Homo sapiens: one gene and its partners. The protein of the gene in region 6 purifies or fractionates together with the protein of the main gene of each other region. This does not show direct contact. Each region holds a gene or a part of one and is shown on either strand. Other genes may lie near its edges. The genes, in order: POMGNT1, NPC2, SLC31A1, PGAP6, DCBLD2, TMPRSS11B and SEMA4F.

Region 1 (3,500 bases), on a different chromosome or scaffold from region 6:
TTTATCCTCATTTTTCAGATAAAGAAACTGAGGCAAAAATAGGATAGCTCTTTCCCCAAGGTTACATGGCTAGCAAGTAGCAGAGCTAAGATTGCTTCAGAGTCCATGTTCTTGTTCTTGACTGTCATGCCACACTGTGCCCTGCTCCCTGCCTCCCACTCACGTGAAAGTAGCCATTCATGTTGAGGCCGACGATGCCAAAGTGGTAGGATCGGGAAACGTCAGGGATGATGCACTCTCGGCCCCGGCGTTGTTCAGGCATCCGCATCCACATGTCCCAATCCCAGAGCTGGCAGACATGGACCACGATGAAGGTTAAGATGTTTCGAGTTGGTAGGGGACTCCAGCCCCCTCACCCTACCCTGACAGTTACCTTTTCCGGTGTAGGCCACTTGGGCTCAAGCTCCTCCTTGTACAAGGACCTCCTGAGCACCCAGCCCAGCCCAGGCATGGTCTCCACACGGTACAGTAGTGCTGGGTCCTCAGCCGTGTGTTCATACCCCTGGGGACAGGGTGCCATAGTGGGAGGTATTAGCTGAGGCCTCATAAACTCGCCTGCTAAACCCTGGTCATTCCAGCCTACCTGGTCATTCCAGGCAGAGATGCAGTACAGGCTGTCATCCTCCTCCAGTAGGTGGATGGATTGGCTCAGGAAACTGAGAGAGGCAGGGTCAAAGAGTTCAGGGAGGGACAAGGATAAATCTAGTCACACAGAGATGCTAGAATTGCTGGAGCTGGGTCTCAGGAGCACCTCCTTCCTGGAGTACCTCCTTCCCCCAAATCCCCACTGTCTCCATTCATCCACTGTACCTTCAACAGCAGCCCCAACACCTGCCATCCTACCTTTGCCCAGGCTTCGCCCCCACTTGTGAGCTCATGTCCTCCAGAAAGCTCTCTAGGACACCTCACTGACTCTTTCCCTGCAGACTGAGGGACCTCAACTGAAACCTAGAGACTCCCCTCACCTGAAAAAATCCACAGCAATGTCCAGGTCCTCTTCCAGAACCACAGCAAACTTGGCCTCCTAGAAGGGGAATGGGACATCATGGTCCCAAAGGGGTCTCTCCATCCTGTGATCTCCTTTGCCCCCAACCCTCTTCTTGCAGGCAGCATTACCCCCATTTTCCAGATGTGAAGGATGAGGCCCAGTGAGGGGAAGAGCTTGCCACGTAACAGGCCCAGACCTTATGCCCATGTTTCCCCCCTCCCAGGCCCAAGAGTTGTATCCTTAGTACTCACCGGAAACAGGTTGAAAGTGGCAGTGAGGCTGGCCTTGTAGTGCTGGGAGTGGGGTGGGAATAGGGCACATGAGCTTTAGGGTAGAAGGCAGAGCCAGGTGTCTGCCCCATCCCCACTTGCCTATGCAGTACCTGAGACACGCGGGCATTCTTGATGCTGATGGGAGTATGCTGGATGCCCCTCAGACCAAACAGTGCCACCACATCCATGGGTTCCTGGGGGACATGGCCACTGCTCACCATGTGAGGTCACTTTCCCTCTGCCCACCTCTGCAATCCAAGGCCTTCACATTTCACAGCCCTTGCCTGGGCGGTCTCCCTTGCCCGTCCCTGGCAATCACTGCTGCTCCATGTTGTACTCCACCCGAGGCACCCCCCAAGTCCTGCTCACCTCATAGTAGCCGTCAATGAAAACTGTTATCATCTGAGGAGACACCCCCTGGGCTGAAAGCAGAGAGCGCAGCATCCTGGGGAGCCCAGGGATAGGTTAGGGTCACTTCATCACCCCTCAACTCAGGTTCCCCTGTGTTTACAGCTGGGCCCAGAGTCCCTATGCTTACCCACAGAGGTGAATGCGTCTAGAATCTATTGCCTTTCTGCCCACCTCAAGAGTTCCTCCTGGAGGTAGATGACCTAAGCACCCTCCTGTTCAGTGCTGGGTATAGCCCATTCCCAGGCTTACCTGTACAGGTAATTGGGTCGGTTCCCTGCAATGACAGCCACAGGCACATTGAGGACCTTGTTGTCTGGGAGCTGTGGGAGAAATAGCGTTTAGCTCTTGCCTTATTCCCCCTTCAAACTGGGATCCCCACCTAGGGAAGACTTCTCAGGTGAGGGTAGGTGCAGACTGGAGTAGACAGGGAAGGGATAGAGGATCTTCCCTGTTCTGGGCTCTCCACACACTCAGCCCAACTCTAGCGCTGAGCTTTACTCACATGGCCTGCCCCTTCACCCCAGCCCTGTCTTTCAGAGCGCAGTGTAAATCCTGCCCCTGGTTCTCTCCCAGGCTCAGGTAGGGAAAGCCCAACCTAGATCATTCCTGGGGCCCCCCTGCTGAGCTGGGAAGGAGTCCAAACCTCACTGTCTTAAGGCCCCACTCACTGGGTCAGGGCTGAACTCGATGGGTGTGGGGTCCTTGCAGCTGCATACACTTCCATAGCCCTCAACTTTGCTGCAGAAGCGCCGGCGGCGACGGTTCAGCTCTGTGTCTGCCCAGTGGCACTCTGCCTCTGAGGGAAGGATGCGGTTGTCATGGAGGCATGGGGCCAGCAAGGTTTGAAGAGCCCCAGGCACACAATCAAAGGAATAAAGCTCCACAGAGAGATCTAAATGCCCACCCCCAGCCCAGGCCCTGCCCCATCCATGCTCCACTAACTCCACCTTCTGCTGAGCTCAATGGCACATCTGTCTTCAGCAGGACTGGGTCCCCCCAGGAAGAGAGGGCAGGTGATTTAGAATGTTTCTCCCCGAAGACAGGACCTGGCAGGAGGCAGGAATGAGGGCCATGGGGGCCCAGACACCAGTTTGGGGGCTTTTTCCCATCTCCCTGCCTACTTTCATCCAACCCACTGCCACTGGCTCCTATTTGTTCCCCACCCCACCCCATCTCCTAGGGTTCTGCTCCTCCCAGGCTCTTGATACTACAGAGTGGATGGCCTCTGATGCCGGCACCTCCTTTTCGTCCCACGAAGGCCCATGTGTCCCTCCAGCCCAGGGCAGGGCCAGCCTGGCTGCCCAGGCTCCTCAGCAGAGCCTTGGCTGTGTCCTTGAGGTGGAAGGAGCCCTCATCCTGGGGGACCAGAGAAGGCAGTTAGCCTGACTGGCATGGTTCCAGGAGACCTGGCCTCACAGAGCACGAACTATGTAGCAACCTTTTACTTAAAATAGCTCATTACATTATTGCAATAACCCTCTATGGTTACTCTCTTTCACAGATAAAATAATAACTGAAGGCTTAGAGATTCTAAGGTCATCCAGCTAATAAGTCCTTTCCACAAACCCACACGATCTGCACCTCTCTCTCCCGCCACTCTCTGCCTTCTTTTCCAACCACTCTCCTACTCTCCTCCCTTATTCTGCTCCACCTCGACTAGCATCTTTGCTGTTCCTCAAATATGCCGTGTACCTTCCCACTATAGGGGCTTTGCACTTGCCATTCTTTCCACCTGGAATGCTCTTCCTCCAGATACTCACCTGGCTCACTCCTCAATTCCTCAGCTTTCTGCTCACATATCATCTCCTTGCAGGGGCCTTCTCTTTCTA
Region 2 (3,500 bases), on a different chromosome or scaffold from region 6:
AATGGTAAGGGTCACAGTTTAAACTTAAACCTTGAAGACGTTTGCTTCAACCTTCCTTTGGATGAAAATATTCCTATTTTCCCTTTCTTTTTCTAGCATATAGATTAGCATGTAAATCTGATGAAAGTTGTTCACTACAGGAACAACTACATTTTTTTTTTTTTTGAGATGGAGTCTTGCTCTGTCACCAGGTTGGAGTGCAGTGGCACAGTCTCAGCTCACTGCAACCTCCACCCCCCGGGTTCAAACCATTCCCTGCCTCAGCCTCCTGAGTAGCTGGGACTACAGGCGAGTGCCATCATGCCCGGCTAAGTTTTTGTATTTTAGTAGAGACAGGGTTTCACTATGTTGGCCAGGATGGTCTTGATCTCCTGACCTCGTGGTCTGCCTGCCTAGGCCTCCCAAAGTGCTAGGATTACAGGCGTGAGTCATTGCACCCTCCCTGTTTTGTTTTTGTGGTTTTTTTTTGTTTTTTTTTTTTGAGACAGGGTCTCACTCTGTCACCCAGGCTAGATGCAATGGCACAATCTCAGCTCACTGCAGCCTCAACCGTCCCAGGCTCAAGTGATCCTCCTACTCCATCCTCCTGAGTAGCTAGAACAATAGGCATGCACCACCACACCCGGCTAATTTTTGTGTTTTGTAGAGACAGGGTTTCACCATGTTGCCCAGGCTGGTCTCAAACTCCTAGGCTCAAGCAATTTGCCCACCTTGGCCTCCCAAAGTCCTGGGATTACAGGCATGAGCCACCGCACCTGGCCAAAAACCGCACTTTATGCGGAAACAGCTAGAAAGCAAATGTAGAGCCTGAAACTCCGCGGAGGAAGATCAGAAATGAATTACAACATCTTTCTACCTCAAGTTCTACATGAGCAAACACTGATTGAGGGAGTCTGCTATTATTGCTTGGAAAGTCTGCCAGATCCCAAAACAGACTGAACCTTTCTTGAATCTGGCTTCAAGAGTTTTTAGTTCCTGAATCATTCATTTTTAGACTCTATGGAAATTGTACCTTGACTAGCAAGAATGAAGGAAAGCAGAGGCATCTGAAGAAAACATCTCACAACAATGGTATTTATCATCCTTGTTTTAGGGGTTAGAAACCAGAAGAGCAAAGATTACTGAGATTTGTCCAAGGTCACATTGCCTGGAAGGGGCAGATCGAAGACTCAATGGGTGGGCCTGACTTGGAAGCCCTTGTTACCGGAACCTGAAAGAAGCTTTAAATACGCAGCCATGTTGATGAATGGAAGGACACCCCAAGGAAATTTGCATCTGAGAACTACTTGAGGACTCTGGATGAAGGTCTGTCTCAAACTCAACTTTTCAGGTTTCTTAATTCAGCATCGCCTCTTTGCCCCTCACCATGATTCTCTTTCTATCGTAGAGGTTCAACCCCTATATCCTCTGTGATTTTCAGTGATGAAGTATCTTCTATCCAGATTTTGTACCCTTTCTCCCAAACTGCTGGTAAATCCTTTGCCCAGTATTTTGTCTTCCTGGAATCCCTTCTTTCTTTCACCCCAACTTGACTTCCTAGAGAAATAAGCAGCACTATTAAAGGTATAGGTAAAACGATGAAAAGTGTCAGAATATCAGTCTTGGCTTTTAAAATTAGGCTGATTCAAGGGTGGGCATGGTGGCTCATGCCTATAATCCCAGCACTTTGGGAGGCCAAGGCAGGTGGATCAAGAGGTTAAGAGTTCGAGACCAGCCTGACCAACATGGTGAAACCTCGTCTCTAATAAAAATACAAAAATTAGCCAGGTATGGTGGTGCTCACCTGTAATCCCAGCTACTCAGGAGGCTGAGGCAGGAGAATCGCTTGAACTGGGGAGGCAGAGGTTGCAGTGAGCCGAGATTGCGCCACTGCACTCCAGCCTGGGTGACAGAGCAAGACTCTGTCTCAAAAAATAAAATAAAATAAAATAAGACTGATTCCAGAAGCCTACTCACTTCCGAGTAAGCAGACTATGGAATTTAAGAGGAACTACCACTTAACACTGAACAGAGGAGTGACCCTAAACAGAAAAACCACCTACCATCTCTGAACTAGGAATGACCCTTAAGAGAGGAACTACCTCCCACTTCTGAATTGGGAACTGCACCATTTTCACTGCACTTCTGCAGTTTCTTCAATGATTTAGTCCTGTTCTTTAAGGCCCACTTATGAGTCATGAAATATTTTGGCTCCAAAAACAACAGGAAGTACCTTAAATCTTGACTAAGGTTGTTAAGATCTGGATTTTTTCCAAGAATCAAGGGGATGAAGAGGAGTACAGAGGTTAAGGTCTTTATAGTTTCAGTACAAGCTTAGGGCACAAGTTAAGCTTAACTCCAAATAGCACTGACTCACACAGCCAAGATGGCAGAAGTGCCAGCTGCATTAAAGAAGAATACTGCTACCTGAGTCTGGGTTTCATTTCCTCTGAAATATTAACTTGGCCTAGGTCTATATAGCTGCTGGGAATGATACACTTGCAAATACTGCATATGTTAAAAACATAAGGATGAGACCTAAGAAGGTACTAGAAAGAGTCAGAAATAGGATTTATCCCTGGGAATCCTCAAAACAAATACATATTTTTCAAAATTAAAAAATTTAAGAAAAGAAATTGGATTCATCTGACTTGTCCAGGTTGTTTCTAAGTAGTTTCAAAAACTGATTTTAAGCACACATCTGCAATCTACAGATGTATACTCGATTTTGGGAACCTGCGTTCTTAAAATAAGTGTGTGTGTGTGTGTCTGTGTGTGTATGTATGTATTTTAATCTCAGTCTAACCAAGGACAAAAGTACTTGTATACAATAAATGCTTGACCAAAAAAGGTTTAAATAAAGCCTTTAAAAATCCCATTTCCTCCTGCCCCAGAGACTGGGCAGTTGAATGGGAGAGAATGCAGGTGAACTGCCTGATAACAGTGCCTGTAACAGGGTAAGTTAAGTTCTGCCATTCAGCCATCATTGCTGAGAGGCAGACTCTGGTGCCGGATGCCTGGGTTTGAAATCTCACTATCTCTGCTACTTACTGTATAGCCTCAAGGCAAGATACTTTACCTCTCTGGAGATAATGGTGTAGCTGAGCTAACACAAATACAGATCTTAGGTAAGTGTTTGGAACATAGTGATACATATATTTACTATTATTATCATATCTGGATTTAGTCCATGAGTTTAATCTAGAATAGCTGCTCCTGGGTAGGTTAGCAAGTTCCCTTCTGACACAAAAACTGGACCTCTCACCTCAAATATACTTTGTGGATAGAAATTATGTTTCTAGCCAATAGGATGGACTCTTTCTGTCTCAAAAGTGGAATGCATGAAGACAGAGGCAAACTGCAGGTTGAGAGTACATTATCTGCTATGCAGTCAGTCACCAGATTAGCTCAGTACTATAAAAGTATGATATGAACTCAGAAATCTAAGTAGATGTTCTTTGCTGCCTGTACCTACCCTTGGGTGGAACAGTCTCTTTAACTATCATCACACTGACCAACAC
Region 3 (3,500 bases), on a different chromosome or scaffold from region 6:
CTAAAAATAAAAAAAAGAGATAAGATTTTTATATCCTTAAATTATTATATATAATTCTTTCTCTTAAAAGAATCTTCTGCTGACTCTCAACTTTTCCTGGAAAAAATGGATCATTCCCACCATATGGGGATGAGCTATATGGACTCCAACAGTACCATGCAACCTTCTCACCATCACCCAACCACTTCAGCCTCACACTCCCATGGTGGAGGAGACAGCAGCATGATGATGATGGTGAGTGCCATAGGAGGGGCAATGCAGGCCCTTTCCCACCCACTTGGGTAATAGAAATAATGGAATTTTAGTACTGGAAGCTTATTATCTTTAAAGGTCAGTTTACCAGTGAGGATAACTAAAGCAGACCCAAGCAAGTCAAGTCATTTGCTCCAGATTATGTGGCAAGCTACTTACAGAGTCACACCAGAACCAAGATTTTAGGCTTCTTTCTTTGGTGGTCCCTTCTGAAATCGACTCTTTTCTGAATTAGGGGTTCTGGTCTTTATGCCTTGGGTGGAAAAGAGAAAAAGACAAAAGTTGGCCAGGCACAGTGGCTCATGCCTGTAATCCCAACACTTTGGGAGGCCAAGGCAGGTGGATCACAAGGTCAGGAGATCGAGACCATCCTAGCTAACACGGTGAAACCCCATCTCTACTAAAAATACAAAAAATTAGCTGGGCATGATGGCATTCGCCTGTAGTCCCAGCTACTTGGGAGGCTGAGGCAGGAGAATCGCTTGAACCCAGGAGGTGGAGGTTGTAGTGAGCCGAGATCTCGCCACTGCATTCCAGCCTGGGCTACAGAGCGAGAATCCGTATCAAAAAAAAAAAAAAAAAAGATAAAAGTTGATGGTGGGGGCCCAGGAGAAAAGTTGATGGTGGGGGCCTAGTAGAATACTCATGCTCGGTGCCTGTGGTGGTAACGCTAACATGAGGGCAAAAGCCTCCCACTCACGTGAATGTCTCTTATTATCCAGATCTTCTACTTTTAAATGTTCTAAGCTTCTTTGCCCCAAATTCTCATTTAGAATTTTCATTCATCTCTAACTGACTTGTTTTGGTTTTCTGGCAGCCTATGACCTTCTACTTTGGCTTTAAGAATGTGGAACTACTGTTTTCCGGTTTGGTGATCAATACAGCTGGAGGTGAGTAAGCCATTAGGTAGTGTTGGAAGGTGATAGTCACATGAGAGACAGTGACAAATAATTTGGAAGTCCAGCACCTCTTTCTGTCCTAATTACTAAGTCAACATGGTAATGATGCATAACCATCTTGGTTCCTATTTCCTACCTAGAAGGTAGGAAACACAGTACTTTTTTGGTCCTCTGGTAAACCTCTGTTAACTAACATGTATGTTTTGGAGCTCTAAAAAATAATTTAGATACCAGATAGAATCTTTTGCAATCCATTTTCTTTCATTCTTTTCCAGAGTGTTTAATTTTTTTTTTTTTTTTTTTTTTTGAGACGGAGTTTCACTCTTGTCACCCAGGCTGGAGTGCAATGGCAGCTATCTTGGCTCACTGCAATCTCTGCCTCCCAGGTTCAAGCGATTCTCCTGCCTCAGCCTCCTGAGTAGCTGGAGTTAAACAGGCACCTACCGCCATGCCTGGCTAATTTTTGTATTTTTAATAGAGACGGGGTTTTGCCATGTTTGCCAGGCTGGTCTCGAACTCCTCACCTCAAGTGATCCACCCACCTCAGCCTCCCAAAGTGCTGGGATTACAGGCATGAGCCACCATGCCCGGCCTCAGAGTGTTTACTTATTTGATAAGTTATTAGTCCTGGACATAAGACTAACTCAAATTAAGTACCACAAAATAAGTTTAAAACTATTGTTCTAATACTTCAATTTTACAATAAATTAAGTGCCACAAATTGTGAAATGACTCGCCATCAATCATAGAGTTAATATGTCAGAGCTAGGACAAGGACCCAGACCTTCTAGAGCTACCTAGACCAGTGTTCTTTTAGTCTACCAAACTATGGCCCACATCCTTCCTGATTCTTGGCACGGCCCATCTTAGACACTCCTAGTTTTGAGGTAGATGATTACCCATCTGTTTGTGTCTATTATGTTGTATGGTATACTTTAAATTTAACTTGCGCAAACTCAATAGTCAGTTGGACTGCCTTAGGTACCAGATGTCTGTTTGGAGCCATAAAATCAATTTGTTTTGGGAAGAAGGAGAGCATTTAGTTCAGGTAATGTGTTAAATTAGCAGTTTGAATACATTTATATCATTACCAACACTTCACAGTGTGAAAGACTTAGAATTGAAATGCCTATTCAGGAAATGTAGTCAGCCACTGATGAAACTAAATTGTTTTATTCCCTGTTCCATATTCTACATTGTGTGTTTCAGTGTAACAAACCTAATTTAATGATATCAAGCAGTCTGACCAAAAGGTTATTGTTGTTCTGATTATTTTTCTTATCTTAATCAGAAAGTAAATATGTTCTTGGCAGAGGCAATAGTTTTCAGTTACACCATCTTAGCCGTTCTCCTATCTGAGCAAGAGAAGAGGTAAAAATATAATGTCTTCAAAAGCTGAGAGTAGCATTTTTTCTATGTGTCTTTCTAGCTGGACAGCACATTGGCTAATGATTTTGCACATGTTTGACAGTACCTCCATATTTTCCTTCCATACTTAGAAATGGCTGGAGCTTTTGTGGCAGTGTTTTTACTAGCAATGTTCTATGAAGGACTCAAGATAGCCCGAGAGAGCCTGCTGCGTAAGTCACAAGTCAGCATTCGCTACAATTCCATGCCTGTCCCAGGACCAAATGGAACCATCCTTATGGAGACACACAAAACTGTTGGGTAAGAACTGAACAGATCCAGATGAAGTCCTAAAGAACTCGATCAGTTAAGCAGCAAAGCGCAGCTGTGTGATCAGCAGCAGCCCTCTTCTTGAGTTAGGAGTTCTGTATGACCTTGATCAAAACTGTCCTTGGAGGTTTGGGTTTGTAGGTCATGAGCAGGCCAAAGGAGGAATGAGAGGGAGTCTTCTGCAAATATGAATGTTTGTTCTGAGTTGTACGGATTGGCCACTTTGGAAGAAGGGAAGTGAGGAATCCATATTTTAAAATATTTACCAAAATAATAATGAACAAGTTAAGAAATTCAGATCAAGATATAAAAGAATGGCAGATTGCAGTTGATTCTATAAAGTTACACCTAGTCAGCCCTGTCCTCTTTTTCTTTACAATGTAAGACTGTATTGATTTCTGTGTTCTGTCTAAGAAAGTATTTGGATGATTATTGGTTTTTCCCATAGATTGGCAAATGTTTTTTGAGATTGTTTTAATAAAAATGTAAGTCTTAAAACCAAATTGGACCTTAAGAAATCCTATAGACTGATATCCTGCTTTCAAACAAGCAGTGTTATTTATTGTACTGATGAGCTTACTGGGGCCCAGAAGGATTGTGACCTACCTAAGGTGGCACAGGGGATGAGTAGCCAGGTCTCCTTATCCCTAATTAAGTAATTTCTTCTATACT
Region 4 (3,500 bases), on a different chromosome or scaffold from region 6:
ACGGGGGGCTGGGGGTGAGAGCCTGAGTCCTCGCCTGGGGCCATGAGCAGGATGTCTCCCACGGGCCCTTCTCCATCCCCGCACCAGGCGTGGGTGCGTTCCCTGAGGACAGTTAGGAGCCTTGCCCGCTTGGAACGCAGAGGGCAGCTGTCCCCTTGTTCTCATGACTGGCCAGGCTTCTGGCCTGGGTCCCTCCCACATGCAGTATCTCCCTCTGGGTAAGGGGAATTTGGGCTCCGGTCTCGCCGTGTCCAAAGTCATCATAGCCCAAGCAGGCAGCCAACCCATCCAGGGATGGAGATGTGGGAGGCTGAGAGGAGGTGGGAGGACCGTGCCTTGATATCCAGGGCATCTGTGATGAGGGGCGGGGGCTCCTTCCTGACACCTGCTGGGTCCTTCGGCTTCGACCTGGGTTGGCCATGGGGAGTGTAGTCTTCTAAGGTTGGAGGGGGTCCGGGTGGCAGTGCGGGTGGGGATGGCAGTCAGAGTGGCGATGGCAGTGCGGGTGGCGATGGCAGTGTGGGTGGCGATGGCAGTGCGGGTGGGGATGGCAGTGTGGGTGGCGATGGCAGTGCGGGTGGCGATGGCAGTCAGGGTGGCGATGGCAGTGCGGGTGGGGATGGCAGTCAGAGTGGCGATGGCAGTGCGGGTGGCGATGGCAGTGCGGGTGGCGATGGCAGTGCGGGTGGCGATGGCAGTGTGGGTGGGGATGGCAGTGCGGGTGGGGATGGCAGTGCGGGTGGCGATGGCAGTCAGGGTGGCGATGGCAGTCAGGGTGGCGATGGCAGTGCGGGTGGGGATGGCAGTGCGGGTGGCGATGGCAGTCAGGGTGGCGATGGCTGCTGAGGTACCCTGCGGCTTGTTTGGAAGCTGCTGCAGTGAGGCGGCAGCTGTGAAAAGACCCAGATGCCAGGAGGGTGGGATGTAGGCCATCTGGGGAGGGACAGCAGAGGATCTGGCTGAGGGGCCAGAGGGTGTCGGTGACCTTTGCCAAGGTCAGAGTTGGTGTGCCAAGATCTCCAGGTGGGTCCCCGGGGGCTTCCAGCCCTTTCCATCTGGGGGACTCGTCCTCCCCATCTGCGGCCCTGGAGGAGGGTCCCGGCCTGGCTGACACCTCCTTCTCCTCACAGAGGTGGGGCTGGTGTCCGAGCACTTCTCGCAGGCCCCGCAGAGGCTGTCCTTCTACAGCTGGTACGGCAGTGCCAGGCTCTTCCGCTTCCGCGTGCCCCCAGATGCTGTGCTTCTACGCTGGCTCCTGCAGGTCTCCCGGGAGAGCGGCGCTGCCTGCACCGACGCGGAGATCACCGTGTAGGTGGCTGCCCGCCCGCCTGCCCACCCTCCCGCGCCTGGCCAAGCCCTGTGCCTGAACCCGGTGCTGCTCTCCCGTCTCCAGGCACTTCCGTTCCGGCGCCCCTCCGGTCATCAACCCGCTGGGCACCAGCTTCCCGGACGACACCGCGGTACAGCCCTCCTTCCAGGTCGGGGTGCCGCTGAGCACCACACCGAGAAGCAATGCCTCCGTCAACGTTTCCCACCCGGCCCCCGGGGACTGGTTCGTGGCCGCCCACCTGCCCCCCTCATCCCAGAAGATCGAGTTGAAGGTGAGGGGGGCTGCCCTCCGGGATGGAGGCAGAGAACCTTGCGGCGATGGCCTGTCCCTGCCGTTCACCTCTTTGGGGTGGTCCTCGCTCTAGGCTCCACGCTGCACTCTGGGGCCAGCCCTGCTCCCTGCATGCCGGGGGCGTCTGGTGAGACCATGCCCTCACACCTGCATTCTCTGACACCGCCCCCGCCCACACCTGTTCTTTCCCTAGGGCTTGGCTCCCACCTGTGCCTACGTCTTCCAGCCTGAACTGCTGGTCACGCGGGTGGTCGAGATTTCCATCATGGAGCCGGACGTGCCCCTTCCTCAGACCCTCCTCTCCCATCCCAGCTACCTCAAGTGAGCGGGGGCCTGGGGGGCAGCCCGGCTCTGCCCTCCGGCCCCTTCTCAGATTCGGTGGAGTGGGTGCGAGAGCCTGGCCCTGAGTCCTGGGGTTGGGCTGGGAAGTGGTCCAGATGCCTGGCCCCCACCAGAGTGGGCTGAGGAACAGCAGAGCCTGGGCACGCTGCGTCCCTGGGCTGAGGAATGGCAGAGCCTGAGCCAGCTGTGTCCCCTCGCTGCAGGGTCTTTGTCCCCGATTACACGCGGGAGCTTCTGCTGGAGCTGCGGGACTGCGTGTCCAATGGGAGCCTGGGCTGCCCCGTGCGTCTCACCGTGGGCCCGGTCACCCTGCCTAGCAACTTCCAGAAGGTGCTCACCTGCACCGGTGCCCCCTGGCCCTGCCGCCTGCTGCTGCCCTCACCGCCCTGGGACCGGTGGCTGCAAGTGACAGCTGAGAGCCTGGTGGGGCCCCTCGGGACAGTGGCTTTCAGTGCTGTAGCTGCCCTCACAGGTGGGCCGCACAAGGGCTGGAGGGATGGCCCTGCCCCTCCCCAGATCCCCAGACTTTCCTCCAGCCAAACCCCTTGTCCTCTCGGCAGCTTGCAGGCCACGGAGCGTGACCATCCAGCCCCTTCTGCAGAGCAGCCAAAACCAGAGCTTCAATGCCTCCTCTGGTCTGCTGTCCCCGAGCCCCGACCACCAGGACCTGGGCAGGAGTGGCAGGGTGGACCGCAGCCCCTTCTGCCTCACAAACTACCCAGTCACGCGGGAGGACATGGACGTGGTGTCGGTGCACTTCCAGCCCCTGGACAGGGTCTCGGTGAGGGTGTGTTCGGACACGCCCTCCGTGATGCGGCTGCGCCTGAACACCGGCATGGACAGCGGGGGTTCCCTCACCATCTCCCTGCGGGCCAACAAGGTACCTGCTGTCTGCAAGCGGCCTGTGGCCTGGGCTCGGGCAGGGCGCCGGGCAACCCCTGCAGCGCCTCCTCATTTACCTTGGCACGGGACAGGCGGCACAGTGACACCAGCAGGCACGGGCCAAGACAGGGGCCCATGTTGGGGGGCCTCCCCTGCTGGGCAGCCTTGTTCCTGTCAACAGGCCCCGGGGCTGTGGGGTAGCTCGGGTCAGAGGTGGGGTGGAGGCAGGATGTCCCAGGGCCCGGGGAGGAAGGTCCCGGTGCACCGTGGGCCTGCAGGAGTCTCAGAGAAAGGCACCAGCACCGGCCGGGCGCGGTGGCTCACGCCTGTAATCCCAGCACTTTGGGAGGCCGAGGAGGGTGGATCACGAGGTCAGGAGATTGGGACCATCCTGGCTAACACGGTGAAACCCCGTCTCTACTGAAAATACAAAAATTAGCCGGGCGTGGTGGCGGGCGCCTGTAGTCCCAGCTACTCGGGAGGCTGAGGCGGGAGAATGGCATGAACCCAGGGGCGGAGGTTGCAGTGAGCCGAGATCGCGGCACTGCCCTCCAGCCTGGGCGACAGAGCAAGACTCCATCTCAGAAAAAAAAAAAAAAAGAAAGGCACCAGCACCAGGCTGAGCTGGCACGTGGGGCAGATGACCCCACTGCGG
Region 5 (3,500 bases), on a different chromosome or scaffold from region 6:
AAAAACTTCAGTTAATTCTCATGGTTCATAACTCATCAAACCACATGATATAGTTCCTTGTTAGTCAACCCTGCTAAACACTTCAGAGAAAGGAATTGTGTCTCATTCTTTAAGTAAATGTAACTATCATGTGTCAGAAATTGTTCATATTAATGTACATATCCCAGTGTATAATGCAGAACTTGATACAAAAAAGGTACTTAGTAACTGATTGTGGAATTGAACTTATTTATTTTTAATGGGAATAAAGGAGAAGCATGAAATTTTCATTTTAATAATTACCTTAACTCTCACTCTCAAACAGGTAAACATTTTCATCTTCTATATTTAGCTTCTACTTCACATTTGGTAGTTTTGGACTCAGGTGAACTAGTTATGTACTAACCTGTTTCTCCAGTGCCAAGCACACACTAATATGAGAATGAGAGTAGTGAGGACCATGACCAGCACAGGGACAAGAACTGCAGCCAGCGCTACATCTGAAGTTACAAAGACAAAAACAGACAAACAAAAGCCATATTAACACCAAAGGCAGAAATCACTAGGGAAAATTAACCACATCATCTTTCAACATTTTTCTACCTCACGGAAATACCATAAACATTATTTGTCAAGACTGGGCATGTGGTGGTAACTGTAGAAGCTTTTGCAGATACACAAAAGCTTGTTACACTATTCATTCCATCTGTGTAGAGATGTGAAATTTTCCTAAATTTTTAAATCACTAAAATAAAATTGAAAGACAAATGAAAAATTGGGAAAATATATTTTCTACATATGAGAAGAGTTACTTTAAATAATTATTATATTGTAGGGCATTACAAGCCAAATCCAAACATTTAAGAGAAAAATCAGCAGAGATTAACTAGTAATACATTAAAAAATACAAGTAACCATTAAATATGTTAACTTCACTAGTAATCAAAGAAATACAAGTTAAACAACCAACACAAAAAAAGTTAAAACAACAAAATACTACTTTTGCTAATCAAAGTGGCAAATATTTAAAACAACAACTAATTGATGAACAGGCTACCAGGAAACAGTTATTTTTTAATGGAAATATAAACTGATGCTATCTCACTGATTGGCATTTTTGGGCAATATGTACAAAAATCTATTGGCAATTCCATTCCTAGAATTTATTCTCAGAAACTAAAAAAAGATGCATCCTTAAAGATGTTCTCCCTGTTTCTGCGTAAGAGTGAAAAATTGGAAATAATCCAAATGCCCAAAAATGAGAGGGAATAAATCATGGTATCCTCCTTACAAGAGAAAATAATCCAGCAATTGAAATGACGTTACATCATAATGGCAAAACATTCATATATATATATATGGGAAGGTAACAATGTGGTGTTAAGAAAGTCAATTGGAAATGTGTGTGTGACCAGGTCAGAAGCCAGCATAATGCTGGAACTGGGAGAGATTTAGGGATCATTTAATCCCCTAATTTCACTCCAGAGATAAGGAATTCTGGGCCCAGATATAGAAAATGATCTGCCTAAGGTCACTTGGGATATTAGTTTCTTCCTTTGTCGCTCAACCCCCTACTTGCCATGAAGATGATAATAGCAGCACCTGCTGATATTTACTGGGGGCTCAGAGCCGGACACTGCAATGAGTCTAACCTGCACCATCTTCTTTATTCCTTAAAACAACTGTATCCAAAAGAGAGAAAGAGGCTGAAGATACAGGAGGGGGAGAGGATAATCAGTAAGATTGGGTCCCTGAGAGGTAGATCGAGGGGAACCAGGGCACAGGTGATATAATCAGCCTTGGGCAACATAAGGAAGCCCCCTTTTCACTGCAGTGAACAGAGGATACAGATAGGTTTGTAGGCTCCACAAAAAGGGAGTTTCACTGGAAGGAAACTCCCTACTTTCTCTGTGAAGTTGGAGCGGTAACTGAGAGTGGGTGAAGATATCTGGGTGAAGGGCTTGAAAATAAGGGGAATATGTAAAATAGCTACAGTTGAGAACAGACAGAAGAGCTACTGCAGCCTTTCAGAAGGTCAGCCAGCTGGTGCCACGGGCCCCACTGAGGGAGGACCTGGAAACTACAGAGGCACAAATCTGACCATGACATAATCTTTTCCATGAAATCACTCTCAGCCTGGCTGTAAAAATGGAGAAGTCCATAAACAGAAATAATGACTTAGACTAGAAAGCACTCAGAATTCACAACGGTAAATGTGCTTTTTCCATAAGATTAGTGAGACAAGAGAAGATAATCAAGTTTAGATGGATGCTGTGTGATTTAATCAGAGGCTTTAAAACATCTTCTTAGGTTCAAAAAATAAATTTATATACTACCATCCCCCTAAAAAAGAGACAGGAGGTCTCTGAGAAGACCAACTCATTCTTTGTTATTCTTTTTGGGCATACAGGGATCCTAATTCTGGAAGGAAATTATTTAAGGACTCTTTTTAGCCTTGAGGGTCTGAGATGCAATCAGATTTTAAGATGAGCAACACTTTTCAGTGACTGATCTCCATCCAGGCATGTGGTCTGGGATTCTGCCTTAGTACATGCCTTCTGACAACTGGTAAGCAGTTAAAAGATGCTGAGATCTCCTGCCTCTGAGAACCCTTGATTCTCTCTAGCTGTACCTGCAGCATGAGAAAGTAATTCATCTTTGTGAAAATACTTCAGAAGATGGGAAAGAACCAACATGGGGAAAGTCAGAGAAAGTTATCTGAATCCAGGCAAACTTTCAAAAAATGAGAATGACTGAAGTTCTATGTGGCACAAATTACTTTGGATGAACGGCTTTCTCTCTCTGCACTTTCCTGAAAACAAGGAAGCTTTTTATGTGACAACTCTGATACTTAGTCTACTATGACACTGACACTTTTTTGAATTCAATTGAAATTTTGTTTTTCAACAACTAGTAAGACTACTATGTTTTATGTATTTTGAGACCTTATTTATCACTGATAACAAAACTTGAAAGTAAATTCTAATAAATTTCTATTTATGATCTTAAAAAATATAATTGCAAACACTTAAAAAGAGACCAAAGTTTTTTTTTATGAATATGTTAACTATGAGTATTTTTTAACAATTACTAGTTTCTACTAAAAGTTCTGTTTTTATTTTCCCCTTTTTGCCATCAAGTTCCCTATCCATCAAATTAATATATTATCAAGGGAAACAAGTTTGTTTCCTGCTATGATTTCAGTTATTTCTAGAAAATATTGTATTTCTAAGCCTGAGAGTCAACATGTTTAGCTGTAAGGAACAATAAATCACAAGAGGAGGCCTGCAACACAGTGGCCTTCTCTAAATATTTAAAGAGCAATTCTACATGGCAGCAGAGACTACAACTTAGATCAATGCAGTCTTTTCCTATGAAAGAAAATAAATTTTTTTTTTTGCTATACTTAAAAACTATAGTTGGAAGAAAATAAACTGAAGGTTTAAAAATGCCCGTGAAAACTTCAGTTAAGAACAAAACAATACTATGTACTAGGCGTTCATTTCCATGTTTGCATACCT
Region 6 (3,500 bases):
ATTTATTAAAAAATATATAAAAAGTTAAATGAAAATTGATTCCAAATAATAAAACTGTGAGTGAAAAATATCATATTTGAATATGTTAAAATGAGAAAGATTGAAGGAAATGACAATTTAGGATAAGAAGAAAATATAAAACCAGGCTATATAAAATATATTTATTAAAGATAAAAACAGTTCTGCATCTTAAAAATTATTATTATTTTTTGCTTTAGAGGTGGGATGTTGCTATGTTGTGTGGGCTGGAGTGCAATTCACAGGTGCAATTACAGTGGACTATAGCCTGGAACTCTTGGGCTCAAGCAGTCCTCCTGCCTCAGCCTCCCAAGTAGCTGGGCCTATAGGAGCATATCGCTGTCCTGTTACATCTTTTAAATAAATTCTCTTTAGAGTATCATGTTTTCCACAAGATACATTTATGCATTCATTCACTCCATGGATATTTATGGAGTATCTTTTGTTCACATGGTGTCTTACAGACAGCAGTGCATATACTATGCAAGATGTAGACACCAATGAGGCAAAGCTCCTCCTTCAAGAATCTGCTTAGAGAGACAAGAGTTATAACACATAGACACAACAAAAAATAGTGGTTGAAAGATGCTTGAGACTGGAAAAGAGGATAAGTAAGAACCACTCAAACCAAGATAGAATACAGAAACATCACAGGAGTATCTTGTAGGAAAGAAACGTCATCAATTAGGAGAAGTTGAATAATCACTGAAAGGTTTCAAGTAATTTTTAATGATATATTTTTTTATAATGCGTAATCAAAGATACCTGCTCTCGTGTAAATAAATCCTTTCTCTAGGTTGTGGGAGACAAGTAGCCAACAGTATCATAACTGGCAACAAAATTGTGAATGGAAAAAGCTCCCTGGAGGGGGCATGGCCATGGCAGGCCAGCATGCAATGGAAAGGCCGTCACTACTGTGGAGCCTCTCTGATCAGCAGCAGGTGGCTATTATCTGCAGCTCACTGCTTTGCTAAGTAAGTTTGAAAATTTGACTAAATGAAGGATGCTAGGTGCAAAACTATTTTGGATAGTTTGTAGGGGTTAACTTAATGTGTCAAGGTTCACCAAGGCCATATGAAATTTACAATCACATAGAACATTTACAATCACCTGCGTAATTAAAGAGCAGGAAAGGAAATGCATTTAAATTAGAGAAAGGAGAGAAAAGCAAATAGAAGTATTAATTAACATTTTCCAAATAGGTACCTTGGCCTGACATTAAGTGCTTTACTTAACATCATTTCATTTAATCACAACATTCAATTCTGTATGGAAGGTATAGTTAAAACCATTTGAAGATGAGGAAACTAAGTCTCACTCAGGAAAGGTGACAAAACTTGGCTAAGATCACTCAGCTCTTTTTTTTTTTTTTTGAGATGGAGTCTCAATCTGTTGCCCAGGTTGGAGTGCAATGGTGCGATCTCAGCTCACTGCAAACTCTGCCTCCTGGGTTTAAGCGATTCTCCTGTCTCAGCCTCCTGAGTAGCTGGGATTACAGGCACGCACCACTATGTCCAGCTAATTCTTGTATTTTTAGTAGAGACGGGGTTTTACCATGTTAGTCAGGCTGGTCTCGAACTCCTGACCTTAAGTGATCCGCCTGCCTCAGCCTCCCAAAGTGCTGGGATTACAGGTGCGAGCCACCATGCCCAGCCTAGTTCTTAAATAATAGAAACTGAATGTGAATTCAAGTGTGTCTGACTCCAGTTACTAGGTGCTTCCTTGTCTTGCCATCCAGAAGTTTATAATCTAGTTGAGAAAATTTAAATGTCATATATTAAAAGTACGAGGCTGTATAGTATTGTAAACATGACACGTATTACAAAGATAGTAAGTACGATGGAAATTTGAAGAAAGACAGCATATCCATCTGACGTAAAATTTAATCTGGACCCAAAAATTGAGTATATCCAAAGGAAGATAAATTGTTCTACCAAAAAGCCATATGCACTTGTATGTACACCACAGCTCACAATAGCAAAAACATGAAATCAACCTAGATGCCCAGCAACGGTGAACTGGATAAAGAAAATATGGGTCATATACACCATGGAATACTATCCAGTCATAAAAAAGAATAAAATCATGGCCTTTGCAGGAACATGGATGCAGTTGCAGGCTATTATCCAAACTAAATGAATTAATGCTGGAACAGAAAACTAAATACCACATCTTCTTGCTTATAAGTGGGAGCTAAACACTGAGTACATATGGATACAAGGAGGGGAACAATAGACATTAGGGCCTACTTGAGGGTGGTAGAAGGGTGAGGGTAAAAAAAGTAGCTATTGAAACCAAGGGTATGTGGCAATAAGACTAATCCTGGACCCCATCCACTTACGGAATTGAGGACGCTCATGTGATTCCTGACCAAATTAAATGTTCAGAAACTGGATGGAACTGAATAAGCAGGGGAAAACATCAGTGACTCTACTTGAAAAGATCTTCAGAAAGCTGACAAATCTGAGTCCTTAGCATTATTTTTAAGTGACTGCAACATTTACAACAGCTCCATGTCAAAGATAGTTTTCAAAATAGAATTTCAGTGGTTTATAGTTTTGTTTGGGAACCTCATGCCTTAAAATTATGAGATAATCACCACTAAGAACAGTGTTGTGACCCAGCAACTGAGTGTATTCTAATTACATTGTGTCCTCTAGGAAAAATAATTCAAAAGATTGGACTGTCAACTTTGGAATTGTAGTAAATAAACCATATATGACACGGAAAGTCCAAAACATTATTTTTCATGAAAATTATAGCAGTCCTGGGCTTCATGATGATATTGCCCTTGTGCAGCTTGCTGAAGAAGTTTCTTTTACAGAGTACATTCGTAAGATTTGTCTTCCTGAAGCCAAAATGAAGCTCTCAGAAAATGACAATGTTGTAGTTACAGGTTGGGGAACACTTTATATGAATGGTAAGTTTTTTTGTAAAATCATAATAGCTGCATGGGAATAACTATTTAATCAATCAATCAATCAATCAATCAATCATCCCCTCATGCAATTAATCAATCAGTAAATATACTGAAAAGAAAACCAAGTGGTGGGACAAAAAGCATGATGTCAAATTGTCTTCACTTCCTAAAATATCTCTGGGAATGGGAATTGGAAAAATTGAAATTATGTGTTAGGCAGCCAACTATTACAAACACCTGAAAGAGACTAATCTAACCTGGGACTGGCCTGACTCTTGGTGACCAAGAGAGTCTGCTTTATGCTATAGGTAGATATTCTTTGTCCCAGCAAAGTCTAAGATCTGCATAATATGCAGCACTTATTGCTTTTAGGTTCATTTCCAGTGATACTTCAAGAAGACTTTTTGAAGATTATTGACAACAAAATTTGCAATGCCTCATATGCATACTCTGGCTTTGTGACTGATACAATGTTATGTGCTGGATTTATGTCAGGAGAAGCTGATGCATGTCAGGTATGTCTAGTTACATTATCCAGTTGTTTTCTCCCAGTTAATCAAAT
Region 7 (3,500 bases), on a different chromosome or scaffold from region 6:
TCTCTTCCAGAGGGGGCAGGCTCTCCCGCCTTTGGCTGCATGGCTCCCTGTGCGTTTCTCGGGGGTCATCTCATTTGACAAGGGATGAGTTGCTATCCCCCAGACCCCTCCATATATCCAGCTCCAACCTGTGAATTCCAGGGAGGGGGCTACTATCTCTGCTGTCTGTGCCTTCCGACCACAAGACATTCGGACAGTGCTGAATGGTCCCTTCAGAGAACTAAAACATGACTGCAACAGAGGACTGCCTGTCGTGGACAATGATGTGCCCCAGCCCAGACCTGGAGAGGTGAGGGGGCAGATCTTCATTCTAGGCCTGAAGTCAAGAGCTGCTATTAAGGCAAGAGCCCCACTAAGCATCACTGGCATGTCCTGTTCCTGGGAAACTTTGTCACCAGCCCTGTATTTCCTCTAGTGCATCACCAACAACATGAAGCTCCGGCACTTTGGCTCATCTCTCTCCCTGCCTGACCGCGTACTCACCTTCATCCGGGACCACCCACTCATGGACAGGCCAGTGTTTCCAGCTGATGGCCACCCCCTGCTGGTCACTACAGATACAGCCTATCTCAGAGTCGTGGCCCACAGGGTGACCAGCCTCTCAGGGAAAGAGTATGATGTGCTCTACCTGGGGACAGGTATATTTAATGGTCAAGCAGGCTGCCTACCTAGTGCATACACATTCTCGTCACAGAGAGGGTACTGTAATACATATAGGTCTGAGTCCCAGGCACAGGGGCAATTATGTAATTATTCTTGTTCCTTTCCTGTCCCCTAGAGGATGGACACCTCCACCGAGCAGTGCGGATCGGAGCTCAGCTCAGCGTTCTTGAAGATCTGGCCTTATTCCCAGAGCCACAGCCAGTTGAGAACATGAAATTGTACCACGTGAGTTGTAGATTTTGGAGAGTCTATTGGGGAGACATCTGAGTCCAGAGCCAGTTTGTGACCCTGAGGTCTGGGAGATCCAGTGTATTCCCCTTCCCCACTCCGTTTTTATAGAGCTGGCTCCTGGTTGGCTCCCGTACTGAGGTGACACAAGTGAATACAACCAACTGTGGCCGTCTCCAGAGCTGCTCAGAGTGCATCCTGGCCCAGGACCCAGTCTGTGCCTGGAGCTTCCGGCTGGATGAGTGTGTGGCCCATGCCGGGGAGCACCGAGGGTGAGTGTAGCTGCCTGGATTTCTTGCTTACTGTGCCAGGGCTCTGTCCCATCCATATGTCTACGTTTCTCATCTGTTAATGCTGCCCTGCCGGAGGCTGTTTTCTTTTTCTGTCTGTTAGTGTCTACATCACTCGTGTGTCCTTCTGTCAGTCCATACTAGCTCATCTGTTTGTCCATCTAGTGCTACCTCATCAATGTCCTTGCCTCTCTGCTGGACCTGCCTTGACCTGACAGTGTGCCATCTCTAGTGGATGCTGCTTAGTTTTCATCTTACAAGAGCTCTTGGAAGTGTTTTCACAGTTGTCCACTCCCTCTTTCCTTGAAATACTTTCCTCTTGCTCTCTATGACTGCATTCTTTGGTCTCCTTTACTTTCCCATCCAACAACTGAATGTTGATATTCCTCAGGGTTCAGTCCTGGACCCATTCTCTTCACACGTTCATGCACTCTCTAGGCAGTTTCATTCTGGTTACTTTCAATACCATCTGAGTGCTAATGACAACCACAAATATATCTAGTTGAGCTGTGGAACTCCCCATCCGACTGTCTACTTGATATTCCCTTGGATGCTTCATAAGCAACTCAAACTTAGCAAGTCAAAGTATGCACTGTTGTTTCCTCTTTCTCTCACATGCTCCTCCTCTGGTCTTCCTCATTCCAGTAAAGGGACCTCCATGCATCCAGTTGCTCAAGCCAGAAATTGCCCACATCGTATTATGATTTGTACTGATTCTAGCACCCAAATGTCCTTAGTCCACCCTCTTCTGTCCACCTCTACCACTACCACTCTAGTCCAAGCCATCATCGCTTCTTAACTGGACTACTCTAATAACCTAATTGGTCTTTTTTTGACCATTTTGGGCTCCTACCATCCATTTTCCATTTAGCAGCTTAAAAGCATATGTCACGTTGAAGCAAATCCCTGACATTATATCATATTCATCTTAAATATTTCAATATGTATCTCTACTAGATAAGGAGTTTTTTGTTTGTTTGTTTGTTGTTTTTGAGATGGAGTCTCACTCTGTCGCCCAGGCTGGGGTACAGTGACGCCATCTCGGCTCACTGCAACCTCTGCCTCCCTTATTCAAGCGATTCTCCTGCCTCAGCCTCCCGAATAGCTGGGATTACAGGTGCCCGCCACCATGCCCGGCTGATTTTTGTATTTTTGGTAGAGACGGGGTTTCACTACGTTGGCCAGGCTGGTCTGGAACTCCTGACCTCAAGCAATCCACTTGCCTTGGCCTCCCAAAGTGCTGGGATTACAGGTGTGAGCCACTGCGCCCAGCCCAGGACTCTTAAAAACATTTTATTGTGGGAAAGTTCAATCATATCCAAAAGTAGAGAGAATTGTATAATGAATTTCCATGCATCCATCCCTCAGCTTCAACAACCATCAGCTCCTGGTCAATCTTGCCTCATCAGTACGTTTACTCATTCCCAACTACTTTGATGCAAATCCTGGACATCATTTCACTTCATCCATAAATCTTTCTGTCCGTATCTCTAACATACAAGGGCTTTAAAAAAAAACCATATTACCATTATCATACCAAAAACTTACTTTCTTAATGTCATCAAATATCCAGTCAGTGTTCTGATTTCTTCAATTGCATATATTTTAAAAAGTTTATGTCAGTATCCAAATAATGCTTATTAATTGTAATTGGTTGATATGTTTCTTAAGTGTATTTTAATTGTTGAGATCTTCCAGTAAAGTATTTTTAATCACTTGATTCGAAAGTGTTTTTGCAAACTGACCTTGAGATTTCCTATTTTGAAGTCCAGTTAATTTATAGCATATTTGTATACTACAGAACCTCAAGTATATACAAAATCCAGAATATTACAAAACCCCATGGCTACAAATTCTGTAGAGGTAAAAGTACTTGTCTTTTGGAATAAAACAGATTAATTCACACATGTCAAAACAGAGTGAAATGTTTAAAATGGTAACTGATCTGTAGGGCTAGATATGAAAGAAAAAACTGGCATATAATTAGAATAGTCATAACATTTAATTTTGTTTTTCTGATATTTGTCATGAATTATAAGTGTAAAATCTTATGCCGTCTCTTGATCAGATTCTTGACTTTTTGCCAGTTGGGGATATAAAGTAACTCTTGGATGACAGGCTTGGCCAGCTTTGCATTTTTGGTTAAGAACTTTAACCTGGTCTTTTAGTTTTTTGGGGGAGAACTTTTAAACATCTAAGAGAAAAGCAAGGGCTTTATTCTGTCCTTTATTGTTTTAATTTCCATTAAAATAAGAATTCACTGGTCTTAGATATCCTCTATACTTGAGCCTCAAGGATTCCCTTAAGGTATACATGAGT

Evidence for each region.
Region 1: the proteins of TMPRSS11B (region 6) and POMGNT1 purify together in Homo sapiens (affinity purification with mass spectrometry; 2 studies listed by BioGRID and IntAct, with this or other methods). This does not show direct contact.
Region 2: the proteins of TMPRSS11B (region 6) and NPC2 purify together in Homo sapiens (affinity purification with mass spectrometry; 2 studies listed by BioGRID and IntAct, with this or other methods). This does not show direct contact.
Region 3: the proteins of TMPRSS11B (region 6) and SLC31A1 purify together in Homo sapiens (affinity purification with mass spectrometry; 2 studies listed by BioGRID and IntAct, with this or other methods). This does not show direct contact.
Region 4: the proteins of TMPRSS11B (region 6) and PGAP6 purify together in Homo sapiens (affinity purification with mass spectrometry; 2 studies listed by BioGRID and IntAct, with this or other methods). This does not show direct contact.
Region 5: the proteins of TMPRSS11B (region 6) and DCBLD2 purify together in Homo sapiens (affinity purification with mass spectrometry; 2 studies listed by BioGRID and IntAct, with this or other methods). This does not show direct contact.
Region 7: the proteins of TMPRSS11B (region 6) and SEMA4F purify together in Homo sapiens (affinity purification with mass spectrometry; 2 studies listed by BioGRID and IntAct, with this or other methods). This does not show direct contact.

The regions. Positions count from the first base shown.
Region 1 is NC_000001.11:46,191,935-46,195,434, forward strand, and holds part of POMGNT1 (protein O-linked-mannose beta-1,2-N-acetylglucosaminyltransferase 1), read right to left. Parts: intron 3,028-3,500; coding exon 2,910-3,027; intron 2,718-2,909; coding exon 2,619-2,717; intron 2,468-2,618; coding exon 2,340-2,467; intron 1,992-2,339; coding exon 1,921-1,991; intron 1,706-1,920; coding exon 1,630-1,705; intron 1,455-1,629; coding exon 1,371-1,454; intron 1,282-1,370; coding exon 1,240-1,281; intron 1,025-1,239; coding exon 966-1,024; intron 657-965; coding exon 584-656; intron 503-583; coding exon 374-502; intron 290-373; coding exon 164-289; intron 1-163. UniProt on the Homo sapiens protein: Participates in O-mannosyl glycosylation by catalyzing the addition of N-acetylglucosamine to O-linked mannose on glycoproteins.
Region 2 is NC_000014.9:74,486,806-74,490,305, forward strand, and holds part of NPC2 (NPC intracellular cholesterol transporter 2 isoform 2 precursor), read right to left. Parts: intron 1-3,500. UniProt on the Homo sapiens protein: Intracellular cholesterol transporter which acts in concert with NPC1 and plays an important role in the egress of cholesterol from the lysosomal compartment.
Region 3 is NC_000009.12:113,256,044-113,259,543, forward strand, and holds part of SLC31A1 (high affinity copper uptake protein 1), read left to right. Parts: intron 1-70; 5' UTR 71-105; coding exon 106-234; intron 235-411; exon of another isoform or gene 412-560; intron 561-1,069; coding exon 1,070-1,142; intron 1,143-2,650; coding exon 2,651-2,819; intron 2,820-3,500.
Region 4 is NC_000016.10:375,479-378,978, reverse strand, and holds part of PGAP6 (post-GPI attachment to proteins factor 6 precursor), read left to right. Parts: intron 1-1,130; coding exon 1,131-1,308; intron 1,309-1,393; coding exon 1,394-1,601; intron 1,602-1,814; coding exon 1,815-1,942; intron 1,943-2,166; coding exon 2,167-2,435; intron 2,436-2,523; coding exon 2,524-2,843; intron 2,844-3,500. UniProt on the Homo sapiens protein: Involved in the lipid remodeling steps of GPI-anchor maturation. Lipid remodeling steps consist in the generation of 2 saturated fatty chains at the sn-2 position of GPI-anchor proteins (GPI-AP).
Region 5 is NC_000003.12:98,807,696-98,811,195, forward strand, and holds part of DCBLD2 (discoidin, CUB and LCCL domain-containing protein 2 precursor), read right to left. Parts: coding exon 3,499-3,500; intron 480-3,498; coding exon 386-479; intron 1-385.
Region 6 is NC_000004.12:68,228,695-68,232,194, reverse strand, and holds part of TMPRSS11B (transmembrane protease serine 11B), read left to right. Parts: intron 1-814; coding exon 815-992; intron 993-2,678; coding exon 2,679-2,938; intron 2,939-3,310; coding exon 3,311-3,453; intron 3,454-3,500. UniProt on the Homo sapiens protein: Serine protease.
Region 7 is NC_000002.12:74,674,747-74,678,246, forward strand, and holds part of SEMA4F (semaphorin-4F isoform 1 precursor), read left to right. Parts: intron 1-141; coding exon 142-289; intron 290-415; coding exon 416-638; intron 639-778; coding exon 779-888; intron 889-1,002; coding exon 1,003-1,163; intron 1,164-3,500. UniProt on the Homo sapiens protein: Probable cell surface receptor that regulates oligodendroglial precursor cell migration. Might also regulate differentiation of oligodendroglial precursor cells. Has growth cone collapse activity against retinal ganglion-cell axons.